Regions from separate parts of the Homo sapiens genome. Here region 2 is linked to region 1. The links come from fine-mapping of genetic effects on gene expression. Tissue or cell type: blood mononuclear cells. Region 1 holds a variant in brackets; the other region holds the start of a gene. All regions are shown on one strand. Distances are from middle to middle.

What was found. PIP is the estimated chance that this variant, and not a neighbour inherited with it, causes the effect.
Region 2: FBXL20 starts here. The variant in region 1 is fine-mapped to the expression of FBXL20 in blood mononuclear cells (TOPMed, PIP above 0.99).

Annotation. Positions count from the first base shown.
Region 1 is chr17:39,306,354-39,308,853 of GRCh38, forward strand. All of the region lies in intron 2 of FBXL20 (F-box and leucine rich repeat protein 20), which reads right to left. Among named protein-coding and RNA genes, the nearest start is that of MIR548BC, 10 kb to the left of the region's middle. The variant T/TA (reference allele first, on the strand shown) is at 943.
Region 2 is chr17:39,400,614-39,403,153 of GRCh38, forward strand. It overlaps FBXL20 (F-box and leucine rich repeat protein 20), which reads right to left and starts at 1,013. Exons shown (of 15, transcript NM_032875.3): 1 at 748-1,013. The coding sequence starts at 789. RefSeq lists silencers at 266-558, 623-1,052, 1,083-1,282, 1,313-1,392, 1,643-2,032 and 1 more.

The DNA.
Region 1 (2,500 bases):
TATCTATTTTTTCTTTCATTTCCTGAACTTTTGGTGTCAAATCCAAGAAATCACTGCTAAACTCAATGTCATGAAGTTTTTCTCCTGTTTTCTTCCAAAGATTTTATAATTTTAGTTCTTAGATATAGGTCTTTGCAAGACCATTTATTGAAAAGACTGTACTTTTCCCCACTGAATGGTCCTGGCATTTTTGACAAAAATCATTTGACCATATATGTGAAGGTTTATTTCTGAGCTCTCTATTCTATTCCATTGGTCTATGTCTGCTTTATGCCAGTATCACACTATTTTAAATATTTTCAGTTTTGAAGCAGAAAGTGCTTTTGGTGATTGAAATATTTGCATGATGTCAGAAAAACTATTAATAGCAACTGAACTGGTTTCAAGAATCTTCCCTTAGGTTTTCTTACACATTTACTTCCTCTAACAGATTTCTGATATTTTGATTTTTCTCCAACTGTAGAGGCCCATGTAAGGGACTGTTTAAAACTGATAATAAATTAAATAAGCTGGGAGGGTTAAGCAAGGAGCAACACGGAAAGCAAATATAACTGATCTATATCCTGCAATCTCAGCAAGACACCAGCAAGGGACAGGAAAATCCCTGAATAAAAGCCCAGAGACCAATTATAGTGAATAATGTCTAGAGAATCTGCCTTCTCTAAGGAGAACCGGATAGGTGGATACAAAAGGGGGAAACATCTAGTTAAAATGATGAGCAGTATCTGAAGCTGTGGTTATAATTTTTCAGCTTGCCTGAAAGGAAAGAAAAACATTCTGATTTGGAGGGTGGTGAGTTTCATTCAAAAAACATTTTTACCACCTGCTATCTACGGGCACTGTTTTAAGTCCCTACTGTTGAGTAACTCACGGCATAGGGGCTGGAGGTAGATAAAAAATAAGTAAAATATATGAGAAAATTTCAATTAGTGATGAGTACTA[T/TA]AAAAAACATAAAGCTGAGTAATGTGATAGAAGGGTGGTCAAGGAAAGCCTCCCCTAGGAGTAGGTATTTGATTTAAGATCTAAATGATCAAAGGAAACAGATTGCCAAGATCTGGGGAGAAGAGCATTCCAGTAGACGAAATAGTGGGTGTATGACAAACGAATGTTTGAAGATCAGAATAGACAGTGAAGCTGGACTGCAGCAGCAGCACAACCCTATACTGAGTTCTTAATTATGTACCAGGTATCATTCTAAGTGTGTAAATTTACATACTAATCCAATGACTCCTTAAAACAATTCTATAAGATAGGTACTATTAGCATTCCCATCTTATAGATGAGGATATTGAACAAACTTCTGTTAGTCAAGGGCCAGAATATGTTAAAAAAAAGACTGGGCGCAGTGGCTCACACCTGTAATCCCCAGCACTTTGGGAGGCCGAGGCGGGTGGATCACCTGAGGTCAGGATTCCAAGACTAGCCTGGCCAACATGGTGAAACTCTGTCTCTACTAATAATACAAAAACTAGCTGGGTGTGGTGGCAAGTGCCTGTAATCCTAGCTACTTGGGAGGCTGAGGCAGGAGAATCGCTACAACTTGGGAGGCAGAGGTTGCAGTAAGCTGAGATGGCTCCACTGCACTCCAACCTGGGCAACAGAGCAAGACATCATTTCAAAAAAAAAAAAAAAAAAATTTAAAAGACTTTGTGGACATAGTAAATGATTTCAACTGTATTCTAAGTCTAGGGGAAGCCAGGCCAGGCATGGTGGCTCACACCTATATATAATCCTAGCACTCTGGGAGGCCAAGGCAGGTGGAGGATCACTTGCGGCCAAAAGTTTGATCTTTTTTTTTTTTTTTCCTAAAGACAGGGTTTTGCCATGTTGCCCAGGCTGGTCTCGAGCTCCTGGGCTCAGGTGATCTACCCACCTTGGCCTCCCAAAGTGCGGGCATTACAGGCGTGTGTCACCACACCTGGCCCATGGCCAGGAGTTTGAGGCCAGTATGGGCAACACAGTGAGACCCCGACTCTGTAAAAATGAAAAAATTTAGCTGAGGATTGTGGTGCACGCCTGTAGTCCTAGCTATCCAGGGGGCTAAGGAAAGAGGATCACTTGAGCTCAGGAGTAAGTGGCTGTAGGGAACTGTGATCACCCCACTATGCTTTGGCCTGGGCAACAGAGCCAGACTGTCTCTTAAAAAAAGAAAAAAAAATAGGTTTCTATTAGAATGGTGGGAAATAAAAAATCAAAAAAATTTTTAATACAATAATTTTTTTTTTTTTTGAGACGGAGTCTTGCTCTGTCACCCAGGCTGGAGTGCAGTGGCACAATCTTGGTTCCCTGCAAGCTCCCCCTCCCAGATTCATGCCATTCTCCTGCCTCAGCCTCCTGAGTAGCTGGCACTACAGGCGCCGAACCACCACGCCCGGCTAATTTTTTGTATTTTCAGTAGAGACGGGGTTTCACTGTGTTAATCAGGATGGTCTCAATCTCCTGGCTTCCTGATCCACCCGCCTCAGCCTCCCAAAGTGCTGGGATTACAGGAGTGAGCCAC
Region 2 (2,540 bases), 94 kb after region 1:
TGACTACTCTCTAAAGACGCTTTCAAGACCGTCCACTCCTCAATTCCAGGACAGTAAACCTCCCTCGCTAGAGGAGAAAAAGTTCCTGAAAGACAGACCGGAATGGATTTGCTGAACTTTCGTCCCAATCTCAAAGCATGTAGACATCCAAGGGTTCCCAAGGAACAATGAGCTACAGAAGTACAGACTAAACGGGAAAGCAGAGGAAGTATCAGAACAATACCCAAACCAAACACAGCACCGAAAACCCGTGGTAGCCTCTATCATCCCAAACTACCGTCCCCACTTCCCTAGTTTCACCAAGGTCTCAAACTCGGAGAAATGGTACCCATCCCCTAATTTCCTCCCTCAACAGACAACAAACGCGTCATGAAGGTAGCAGCGAGAAAAGCAGCAGGCTCTGGTGGACCGGAGCCGTGATGGCTGGGTGGAAGGAGGCAAGCCAAGGGTTGTGTAAAGAATGGAAAGCTGAGCGATCCTGGAGGAGGGTGGAATTAGGGCGCCCGAGCTAATCCCCCGCGGGGGCCCGCTGGTGGGAAGAGACGGGGGGCGAACCGGCGAGGGGACTGGGGGCACCGGGCTGCGCTGGGCTTCTGGGTCGCAAGAAAGGGGAGCGGAGTCTGGCAGCCCCGCCAGTGGGTGGGTGACGGCGCCTGCCAGGGAGGAGGCTCCGTGCGGAGCGGACGTTTTGGGATTAGAGCGCGCGACCCGCCCTCCTCACGCCGCCCGAGCCCCCCAAGCTCACACCTCAAACCTGCTCTTGGTCACTCCGTTCACGTCCCTCCTCATGGGGCCGGCGGGTGCGGCCCGGGCCGGGCGCTGCGGCGAGCGGAGTGCACAGACCGGGGGCCCAGGACAGGCCCGGGAGTTCCGGGACGGGGACTGGGCGCCGGAGGGGTGACGCCGGGACCGTGGGACGGGAACAAGAGACCTCTCGGCTCCGGCTAGGCCTCCACCACCTCCCGCGGCGCCGGCGGCCGCAACGACTGCTCGTCGCTAGCTCGGCTCTCTCCTCAGCCTCAACTTCAACCCAAAACAAAAACACTCCCCACCTGCCAGCAACGCCGCTGCTCATTGGACAGAGCCGCCCGGGCCTCGGAGCGCCCGGGAGGGGGAGGGGCGGGAGGGGAGGAGCGCGGCGGCGGCGGCGCGAGACCACCCCTCCCCCACACGGGGCCGGCCCTGACGGCGCTCCCGGGAGCAGCCGGTGCGCGGCGGCGGCACGACCCCCTGCGCCTCCGAGGCAGACGAGCCCATCGGGAGAAGGCGAGGCAGGGAAGTGCCTGTGCGTGTGGAAAAGGGGGTCTGTGGGGCGGATGCGAGTGCGCGCGTGCTCGCGGACCAGCGAGGGAGAGTAGAGCAGTACCGCACTCTGCGCGGGGGCCCCTCTTCTGCCCCGTGTCCCCCTCTCCTCCCTCCGCGGGCAAACAGGCACGCACCTGCCTGCACAGAACCTCAGCCTCTGCCCGCGCCCGTCGCCCCTCGTCACTTGTTCCCCAGGATCCTGTAAGGCACCCGCATCCTTCCCGGCCACCCAGCTCCCTTCCCCTGTCACTCACTGTCGCCTTGAACCCAAAGTGCAGCAGGCGGTCCCTGCTCGGAGCCATTTTCCTCCTCTTCTGGATGTGTCTAGATTGGGGCAGTGCGGCTGCCGCCGCGCCTCCGCGGTTGCCGCCGCCGCCGCCTCCCCCGCCTCCCCCGCCCCAGTGCATTACATTACGGGGTGCTGCAGGGAGGCCTGGGGGGCCGGGGCCGGACGCTTGTCTCCCTGTGCATGGCTCGGGAGGGCGAGGGTGGTTGCGCTGAGCAACAGGCCAAGTGCCCGCCCTGGTCCGGGGATGGCTGCGGAGCTGCACCTGAGGCCGGGGGTCGGGGGTGCAGGGCTGGAGCCGGGCAACCCTTCCTTTGGCCGGGGTCGGGGCGCGCGTCCGTGGGGGTGGGGCGGGCGAGACCGAAGAGCCTTTGGTTTTCCTTGCTCGGCCGCCGCCGGCGCCCAATGGGCTGCAGCGCCTGCCTGTCCGCCAATCAGGGCGCTGTTTGGTGAGAGCTTCGGCCTGACGTCACTTTGGCGGGAGAAACAAGCGTGTGTGAGCGAGTAGGCGGGGGCGTTTTCCCGATGGAAACACTTCATCAGACTCCCGGGCTCCTTGTATAGAAGCTGATCTGTGTCATCATATTATATTATGTTTTAACAACTCTGGCCTTCAAGGTCTCAGAATTTATGACCGAATTTCCACGAAGGAATAACACAGGATTTTGTAGTTTTGTTGCCCCTTCTATGAGCAACAAACTACAAAATTATGTCCTAAGAGTGAACTATTAGAAACTGTATAATAAATTCCAGCACACCTGGCAGGAGCAGCAGCACTGCTAATTGTATGCTTCCAAAGCAGTTATGAGTTGGTCTTCCTCACACCCCTTTTAATTAGTGGTTTTAGCGACTGACTTGTTATGCGTCTAAGAAATTAACAAGAGCAACAAGTGCGGCAGATCTTTAAGAACAGGTATATTTTAGCTGGAGGACATATTACCCAACTCTT